2 separate regions of the Homo sapiens genome follow, and region 2 is linked to region 1. Evidence: fine-mapped expression QTL. Tissue or cell type: uterus. Region 1 holds a variant in brackets; the other region holds the start of a gene. All regions are shown on one strand. Distances are between the middles of the regions.

Region 1 (5,147 bases):
ACAATCTGCTACCTCTAAGGATACTTGGAATCAGTTCCAAGAGGAAATGCAAAAATATTCTGAAGAAATGCAGAAGCGGATTGACTGGCATACAACAAGGTTTCTGTCCACCAAGACTGCTTGAGAAGCACTCACTGCGGAAGACCTAAGGACCAGGACAAGAACAGGGCCCCCCACGAGCCAACACAGAAAGGGCCCCACAGCTTCTCATATGCATCACTTTTTCTGTCTGACAAACATTAATCATCAGGTAAATGAAATTAATATCAAATTAATGGCACCAAGACAACATCGTACATAAGTTAAGTACATGGCCTCTGGAATTAGCCTGATCTTAGTTCTTATTCTGTTATGAGCTGTGTGTCATCTGGAGATGTTTTTTAGTTCTTGCCTTCCCAATTTCCTCAACTGAAAATGGGGACAACAGCACCTCATGTTGCTATTAGAAGAATTAAAGGGCACATGCTGGGCGCGGTGGCTCACACCTGTAATCTCAGCACTTTGGGAGTCTGAGGCAGGCGGATCACCTGAGGTCAAGAGTTCAAAACCAGCCTGGCCAACATGGTGAAAACCGTCTCTACTAAAGATACAAGAAAATTAGTCGGGCTTGGTGGTGGGCGCCTATAATCCCAGCTACTCACTTGGGAGGCTGAGGGAGGAGATCACTTGAACCCAGGGGGCAGAGGTTGCAGTGAGCTGAGATCGCGCCACTGCACTCCAGCCTGGGCAACAACAGCAAAACTCTGTCTCAGAAAAAAAAAAAAAAAAAAAAAAAAAAGAAAGGAAGGGCATAATGCCAATGCCTGGTAGGTAGTATTCAGGAAATACTACCCACTATAATCTTACTATCCATTTGATATGTTTCTAACAGGAAAAAAATTTAGGTTTAAAAACAACATCCAGGTTAATACTTGAGGTTAACTCTTAAGATAGGTATCAACTGGCTGTGTTTTTTTTTTTGTTTGTTTGTTTTAAACAAGAGATAGGGTTCTGTCAGACTCTGCCACCCAGGCTGGACTTCAATTGCACAATCATAGCTTAGTACAGCCTTGAACTCCTGGGCTGCTCCTTCCACCTCAGCTTTCTGAGTTACCGGATTACATGAGTGCATCAAGGCACCCAGCTCAACAATTGCTTCTTAACAGGAAAACACCAACTTCTAACCTCTTCCTAGTTCAATGCTTTCAAGGTACCTAGGCCATAACACCACAGATCAAGTCCGGCAACAGGAAGAGTCTGAATGGTTGTCCTCAAAATGTCTCATACTGTATGCCGCAAATGGATAGCAAGTACATATGAAATGTTATAAGACATCACCTTTCAACAAAACAAATTGGTTCAGAATCATCTGAACCAACTGACCCTTATTCTACTGAACTGGCATTACAGAACAACTTACTTCCCAATATGAAACTGATCACCTATTTTAATTGTGGAACTGATACATTCAGGGCACATTCTAGAGACATTGCCGGTTACCTACAGCATGTTCCTGAAGCTGCTCCGGAAGCTCTTTCATTTCCCCCTCGACTAGCTCTCTACTATCCGACAGGGACTCCTGGAGGTTATCAGCATCATCGTCTTCGACACAATCTGCAACGCTTCCATTATCAATTTCTGCTTCATCCAACACACTGATATCCATGATGTCGATGTCCTGCAAGTTCTCCAGACTGGTCTCAACATCCTCCTGTGACACAACCAGACCGAACCATCATGTGACCGCCACTGGTCCATCCACCACGCTACTCACTCGCAAGGCTGCACATACCTGTCCATCCCCAGAGTTTTCCTCCAGCCCGTTATCTTCCACACCCTCTTCTTCTGGTTTGCGCCCTGAAGACAGAATCATTTACAGCATGAGATCAAATGATACGCACTTTACAGAAGCAACAATGCCCTGAGCACTACACAAGTGGTCACTTTATAAACATCTGAGACACCTCACTACTTAGGAACACTTCCTAATCCAGGAATGAGGCCATTCCGCACAA[G/A]ACAGCCCTGCCCCACCCCCAAGCAGAAGAGGTTCTGTTCTTGTCTGAGCTGTGGAAGTAGAAGTGCAGAAAACAGGTTCTTAGTAAAGTTGAACAGGATCAGACCTGTCCTCAGCTCTGCCCTTCTTCCTATCCCAAGTGTCCTTGTTTGAGGGAAAAATTATTTGTTGCAAATGTGCTGCCTTTTAGTTAAGGAACATGTTTTCCCACAGAAACTGCGCATGCCCGAGTATGCACATTTTTAATGCTTAAAAAGAAAAAAGAAGGGCCGGATGCGATGGCTTACGCCTGTAATCCCAGCACTTTGGGAGGCCTAGGCGGGCGGATCACCTGAGGTCAGGAGTTCGAGACCAGCCTGGAAAACATGGTGAAACCCCGTCTCTACTAAAAATACAGGACAATCACTTGAACCCAGGAGGCGGAGGTTGCACTGAGCCGAGACTGCGCCACTGCACTCCAGCCTGGGCAACAAGAGCGAAACTCGGTTAAAAAAAAAAAAAAAAGAAAAACAAAAAACCCACATACTATCAAGATACTCCAGAGGGGCTGGGCACGGTGGCTCATGCCTGTTAAGTCCAGCACATTAGGAGGCCGAGACAGGTGGATCACTTGAGGTCAGGAGTTTGACACCAGCCTGGCCAACCTGACGAAACCCTGTCTCAACTAAAAATACAAAAAACTAGCTGGTTGTGGTGGCGGTTGCCAGTAATCTCAGCTACTCAGGAGGCGGAGGCAGGAAAATCGCTTGAACTCTGGAGGTTTAGGTTGCAGTGAGCTGAGATCGTGCCGCTGCACTCCAGCCTGGATGACAGAGCAAGACTCTGTCTCAAAAACAAAACAAAACAAAACAAAAATTGCAGAGGAAGGTTTTTTTTTAACTTATACATTTCCATCAACAGCGAATTAAAAAGTGCCAATCTCGTGCACTTGTAGTCCCAGCCACTCGGGAGGCTGAGGCAGGAGAATCGCTTGAATCCGGGAGGCAGAGGTTGCAGTTAGCCGAGATCACACCACTGCACTCCAGTCTGGCAACAGAGCGAGACTCCATCTCCAGAAAAAAAAAAAAAAAAAAAAAAAGCCAATCTTTCTTGAATCTCTGTTAAAAATTTGCTATTTTTCTTTATCTTTGCCAATATGCTAGGTAAGAAAAGGAATACTGTTTTAACACGAATTTATCTCCTGACTACTCAAATTGCTTTGAATCATTTGCTTTTTGTTGTTGATCACCTGTACTTTTCTAAAAATTTCTGATTTACACCCCACTATTTAAAAACTTCGGCTCCAGCCAGGCGCGGTGGCTCACGCCTGTAATCCCAGCACTTGGGAGGCCGAGGCAGGCGGATCACCTGAGGTCAGGATTTCGGGACTAGCCTGACTGACATGGAGAAACCCTGTCTCTACTAAAAAAAACCAAAAAAACAAAAAACAAAATTAGCCAGGTGTGGTGGGGCATGACTGTAATCCCAGCTACTTGGGAGGCTGAGGCAGGAGAATCGCTTGAACCCAGGGGGTGGAGGTTGCGGTGAGCCGAGATCCTGCCGTTGCACTCCAGCCTGGGCAACAAAAGCAAAACTCCATCTCAAAAACAAAACAAAACAAACAAACAAAACACTTCGGCTCCATCCCCCATCATTTGAAGTTTATATATCATATGTACAAAACATATTTTCCCAGTTCTTTACCAGTTTTTAAATTTTGTTTACAGGTTTTGAGTACACTTCACTGTTCTTTTTTTTTTTTTTTGGGACGGAGTCTTGCTCTGTCACCCAGGCTGGAGTGCAGTGGCCTGATCTCAGCTCACTGCAACCTCTGCCTCCTGGGTTCAAGTGATTCTCCTGCCTCAGCCGCCTGAGTAGCTGGGATTACAGGCGCCTGCCACTACACCCAGTTAATTTTTGTATTTTTAGTAGAGATGGGGTTTCACCATGTTGGCCAGGCTGGTCTCAAACTCCTGACCTCAGGTGATCCACCTGCCTCAGCCTCCCAAAGTGCTGGGATTACAGACATGAGCCACCGCGCCCTGGCCCATTTCACTCTTATGTGGCCAAGCTATTAATTGTTTTTAAAATGTAAGTGGTTTATACCTTCATGCTTGGATGTCCTCCTCCATACTGAAGGCTAAATAATATACACCTGTATTTAGTTCTTTTGAAGTTTTAAACATTTATTCTCTCAGTTTCATGTTGAGTGAGACTATTTTCCCAATAGTTGTCCCATTTGGAAACTGATTTCCCAGCACCACTGACTAAATAGTACTTGCCCCCGACCAATTTGAAATGTTGGCTTCCGCAATATTATATTTGTATTTATGTCTGGGATTACTTGTTTCCATTCTCTTCCACTGATCTGTTATTTTTGTTCCAGTTTTAGATATGTGGCATTACCATGTTTTTCTAAATAGAAAATACTTGCCAGGCGTGGTGGCTCATGCCTATAATCCCACCACTTTGGGAGGCCAAGGCGGGTGGATCATCTGAGGTCAAGAGAAGAGTTTGAGAACAGCCTGGCCAACATGGCAAAACCGCGTCTCTACTAAAAATACAAAAAAATTAGCCAGGCGTGGTGGCAGGCGCCTGTAATCCCAGCTTGGGGAGGATGAGGCAGGAGAATCGCTTGAACCCGGGAAGTGGAAATTGCAATGAGGCGAGAACACACTACTGCACTCCAGCCTGGGTGACAGAGCAAGACAGACTGTCTTTAAAAAAAAAAAAAAAAAAAAAAGACTAAGATTAAGTATAAAAAAAAAGAAACTAAAAAACGATTGGAAGGTATGGCTTAACTCCAGGTTTTTCTTCAAGAGTTTAGTAATTTTAGGCTGGGCGTGGTGGCTCACACCTGTAATCTCAGCACTTTGGGAGGTCGAGGTGGGTGGGTCACCTGAGGTCAGGAGTTTGAGACCAGCCTGGCCAACATGGTGAAACCCCAGCTCTACTAAAAATACAAAAATTAGAAGGACATGGTGGCAGGTGCCTGTAATCCCAGCTACTCGGTGGGGGGGTTGACGCAGGAGAATCGCTTGAACCCAGGAGGCAGAGGTTGCAGTGAGATGAGATTGAGCCACTGCACTCTGGTGTGGGTGACAGAGACAGACTCCATCTCAAAATAAATAAAATAAAAAGAGTTTAGTAATTTTAAAAAATGTGAAAAACATCA
Region 2 (5,147 bases), 790 kb before region 1:
ACTGCAGCTTCAAACTCCCAGGCTCAGGTGATGCTCCCATCTCAGCCTCCGGAGTAGCTGGGACCACAGGCACACACCACCATGCCTGACTACTTTTTTTGTTTTTTAGAGACTGGGTCTTACTCTGTCACCCAGGCTGGAGTGCAGTGGCACAATCATAGCTCACTGCAGCCTCTAATTCCTGTGCTCAAGGGAGCCTCCCCCTTCAGCCTCCCAAGTAGCTGGGACTACAGGTGCACATGACCACACCTGGCTAATTTTAAAAAATTTTTGTAGAAAAATTTCTTGCTTTGCTGCCCAGGCTGGTCTTGAACTCCTGGACTCAAGTGATCCTCCCGCCTCAGCCTCCTGAGTAGCTGGGATTACAGGTATGCACCACCACACCCAGCTAATTTTCGTTATTTTTAGTAGACACGGGGTTTTATCATGTTGGCCAGGCTGGTCTCAAACTCCTGACCTCAGGTGATCCACCTGCCTTGGCCTCCCAAAGTGCTAGAATTACAGGTGTGAGCCACCACGCCCAGCCAAAAATAATTTTTAAAACTTAGCCGGGCGTGGTGTCCGCACCTGTGTTCCTAGCCACTCGGGTGGCTGAAGTGGGAGAACCACCTGAACAGAGAGGTCAAGGGGATTGACCTTAAGTGTGCCACTATACTCCAGCCTGGGTGACAGAGTGAGACCATTTCCCATCAGCTGTTTAGCAACCTTAATTCTTTTTTTTTTTTTCTTTTTTTTTTTTTTGAGACAGGGTCTCGCTCTGTCACCCAGGCTGGAGTTCAGTGGCAAGATCTCAGCTCACTGCAGCCTCCACCTCCCAAGCTCAAGCAACCCTCCCACCTCAGCCTCCTGTGTAGCTGGGACCACAGGCATGGACCACCATGCCCAGCTAATTTTTGTATTTTTTATAGAGACAGGGGTCTGGCCATGTTGCCCAGGGTGGTCTTGAACTCCTGGGCTCAAGTGATCCACCTGCCTTGACCTCCCAAAGTGCTGCTATTATAGGAATGAGCCACGGCGCCCAGCCTAGCAAAGTTTTGTTGTTGTTGTTGTTTGTTTGAGATGGAGTCTCGCTCTGTTGCCCAGGCTGCAGTGCAATGGCTCAATCTCGGCCCACTGCAACCTCTGTCTCCTGGGTTCAAGCAATTCTCCTGTCTCAGCCTCCAGAGTAGCTGAGATTACAGGGGCACACCACCAAACCTGGCTAATTTTTGTATTTTTAGGAGAGACTGGGTTTCACTATGTTAGTCAGGCTGGTCTCGAACTCCTGACCTCAGATGATCTGCCAACCTCGGCCTCCCAAAGTGCTGGGATTACAGGCGTCAGCCACCACATCAGGCCTAGCAACCTTATTTGTATCTGCAAACTTAATTCCCCTTTGCCATGTAACAAATGTAAGTCAGCCCAGGCTGCTATAAGGAAACACTAAAGAGCGGGGTCTTAAACTGCAGACATTTATTTCTGGAGGCTGGGAAATCCAAGGTTAAGGTGGCTGGCTAGCTCAGTTCCTGCTGAGGGATTTCTTCCTGCCATGCCTTCTTGCTGCGTCCTCCCATGGCAGACAGAGAGAGAGAAAGAGCTCTGGTTTGTCTTTTCCTTATAGGGAACTAATTCCATCTTGCAGGGGCCATCCTCATGAGTTCATCTAACCCTGAGGACCTCCCAAAGGCCCTGTCTCCAAATTCCAACCCACTGGGAAATAGGGCTTCAACATAAGAATTTTGCGGCCGGAAGCAGTGGCTCACGCCTGTAATCCCAGCACTTTGGGAGGCTGAGGTGGGCAGATCATGAGGTCAGGAGATCGAGACCATCCTGGCTAACACGGTGAAACCCCGTCTCTACTAAAAAATAAAAAAATTAGCTGGGCGTGGTGGCGGATGCCTGTAGTCCCAGCTACTCGGGAGGCTGAGGCAGGAGAATGGTGTGAACCCCAGAGGCGGAGCTTGCAGTGAGCCAAGATAGCGCCACTGCACTCCAGCCTGGGAGACTGAGCGAGACTCCGTCTCAAAAAAAACGATAATAATAATAATTTTGACAGGACACAATTCAATTTATAACGATAACATATTTATTGGTTTGGGGGATCAGGAGGTGGATACTTGGGGGAAGGGGGCCATCACGCTGCCCACCACACCTAGGAAGGTCACAGGGGCGTTTGTGACTTCATCCTCCTCTTGGTCCCCCACACAATCCTCCCACTAGACACTCCCGCATGGTAGCTGGAGCAGCAAACAACTGCTTAGGGATTTGAAGCCAGGTGTCCTAACTTCCTCCATGGGCGCTCAGCCTGGGGAACCTCAGAACACTTGCTCTAGGATCCAGACACTGTTTAGGAGGGTCAAGACCTTACTCATCAAAGCCCCGCCTCCCCCCCAACCTCCGCCTCCACCCCCATCCTGGAACCCTGGCTGTACACACGTGTATGGGTACGCGTTTGGCCACATGCATGACAACAACCTTGAACATCTCCCGTCACAGCAGGTGAGTTTAGGAAACACCAGTGTCCCGGCACCTCTGGTCAGGACTACAGGGAGAGGCCAGGCTACCCACGCCCTCTACAGGCCCACTCCCCTGCTAGCGGACCTAGAATTCCACCTTGAAGCAGGGTGGGGCAGGGAGGCAGGGCGCGATGGCTCCACACATGTAATCCCAGCACTTTGGGAGGTTGAGGTGGATGGGTCACTTGAGGACAGGAGTTCAAGACCAACCTGGCCAACATGCCGAAACCCTATCTCTACTAAAATTACAAAACTTAGCCAGGCATGGTGGTTGGCGCCTGTAGTACCAGCTACTCAGGAGGCTGAGGCAGGAGAATCGCTTGAACTCAGGAGGTAGAGGTTGCAGTGAGCCCAGATCTCATCACTGCACTCAAGCCAGAGCAACACAGCGAGATTCTGTCTCAAAAAATAAGAATAAATTAAGAGTCTAGATATAGTCCTAATTACATTTGTATTCCTCCTTGGATCCTCCATGAGTAACTTAGAGAGTCTATATTACATTGGCTGGGTGTGGTGGCTCACACCTGTAATCCCAGCACTTTGGGAGGCTGAGGCAGGTGGATCACCTGAGGTCAGGAGTTCAAGACCAGCCTGGCCAACATGGTGAAACCCTGCCTCTATTAAAATAATACAAAAATTTGCTCGGCACGTTGGCACTGTAATCCCAGCTACTGGGGAGGCTGAGGCAAGAGAATCACTTGAACCCAGGAGGCGGAGGTTGCAGTGAGCCGAGATCACACCATTGTCCCTACTTGGGAAGCTGAGACACGAGAATCGCTTGAACCAGGGGGACAGCGGTTGCAGTGAGCCAAGATCGCACCACTGTACTCCAGCTTGGGCGATAGAGTGAGACTCTGTCTAAAAAAAAACAAAAACAAAACAAAAAAAAACCAGGGGGGAGGGTTGAATCACTTGAGGTCAGGAGTTAGAGACCAGCCTGGCCAACATAGTGAAACCCATCTCTACTAAAAAAAAAAAAAAAAAAAAAAAAAAAAATTAGGTGTTGTGGTGCATGCCTATAATCCCAGCTACTCAGGAGGCTGCGGCAGGAACTGCTTGAACCTGGGAGGTGGAGGTTGCAACGAGCTGAGATTGTGCCACTGCACTCTAACCTGGGCAGCAGAGCAAGACTCCGTCTCGAAAAAAAAAAATGCAGACTTGGGGGAACAGGGTGGGTCTTTCACCAGGTGGGTGCCCTAGATGTGTGTCTGGGGAAGGTGCCCCAACCTGGCTGAGGATGAGGGAGGGCCGGGTCTGCCCTGCAGGTACTGGACACAGGAGAGCAGCTGATGGTCCCCGTGGAAGTCCTGGAAGTGGATAACAAGGAGGCCTTGTGGAAGTTTCTACTCTCAGGAGCTATGGCCGGGGCGGTGTCTCGCACGGGCACGGCACCTCTGGACAGAGCCAAGGTGTACATGCAGGTTTGTGTGGGTTGGGGGGAGGACGGGACCCAGCGCTGGAGCCACTGGGGAGAACGTGGGGTGAGGACAGATGGAGTTGACGTGGATGGAGTTCAGGATAGGAGTGCTGGCTGGAGTTGGGCTCTCCTGGACTAGCTGAGATTGAGGTTGTGGATGGTGATAGAGCTGGTGTGGACATGGCTTGGAGTCGAGTTTGAGGAGTTGAGAGAACTTGCCAGGGACAGGGACCAACGCTGGGCCAAGGTGGGGGTTGGAGGTCAGGGAATTGGGGATGGGGTCTTTGGACGAGTTTAAAGACAAGGTAGGGGCCAGGTGCAGTGGCTCATGCCTCTAATGCCAGCACTTTGGGAGGCCCAGGGGAGGTAGATCATCTGGGGTCAGGAGTTTGAGACCAGCCTGGCCAACATGGCGAAACCCTGTCTCTACTAAAAATACAAAAAAATTAGTCGGGCATGGTGGTGCGTGCCTGTAGTCCCAGCTACATAGGAGGCTGAGGCAGGAGAATTGCTTGAACCCAGGAGATGGAGGTTGCAGTGAGCCGAGATTGCATCACTGCACTCCAGCCTGGGCAACAGAGTGAGACTCTGTCTCAAAAAAGAAAGAAAAAAAAAAAAGGCAACATAGAACTGGAGCTACCTCAAGCAGGATATCTCACACCCATAGTCTCAGCTGCTCAGGAGGCTGAGGCAGGAGGATTGCTTGAGCCCAGGAGTTGGAGGCTGCAGTGAGCCATGATCATGCCACAAACTCCAGCCTGGGTGACAGAGCGAGATCCCTGGCTGAAAAAATAAACGGGTGCAGTGGCTCACTTTGGGAGGCCAAGGAGGGAGGATTACTTGAGCTTAGGAGTTTGAGACCAGCTGGGCAATATAGTCAGACCACATCTCTACAAAATAATAATTAATTAATTAATTAATTAAAAATTTAAAAAGGAGTCGGGCATGGTGACTCACACCTGTAATCCCAGCACTTTGGGAGGCCAAAGTGGGAAGATCGCTTGAGCCCAAGAGTTTGAGACCAGCCTGGGCAACATAGTAAGACCCCATCTATACAAAAAATTTTACAAAATTAGCCTGCCATGGTAGCACGCACCTGTAGTCCCAGCTACTTGGAAGGCTGAGGTGGGAGGATCACTTGAGCCCAGGAGTTTGGGGCTGCAGTGAGCTGTGATTGCACCACTGCATTCCGGCCTGGGCAACAGAACAAGATCCTGTCTCGAAAACATAAACAA

What was found. PIP is the estimated chance that this variant, and not a neighbour inherited with it, causes the effect.
Region 2: SLC25A41 starts here. The variant in region 1 is fine-mapped to the expression of SLC25A41 in uterus (GTEx, PIP 0.96).

The regions. Positions count from the first base shown.
Region 1 is chr19:5,638,283-5,643,429 of GRCh38, reverse strand. It overlaps SAFB (scaffold attachment factor B), which reads right to left. Exons shown (of 21, transcript NM_001201338.2): 3 at 1,772-1,836; 4 at 1,484-1,690. Among named protein-coding and RNA genes, the nearest start is that of SAFB, 18 kb to the right of the region's middle. The variant G/A (reference allele first, on the strand shown) is at 1,995.
Region 2 is chr19:6,430,818-6,435,964 of GRCh38, reverse strand. It overlaps SLC25A41 (solute carrier family 25 member 41), which reads left to right and starts at 2,202. Exons shown (of 7, transcript NM_173637.4): 1 at 2,202-2,478; 2 at 3,761-3,916. The coding sequence starts at 2,272.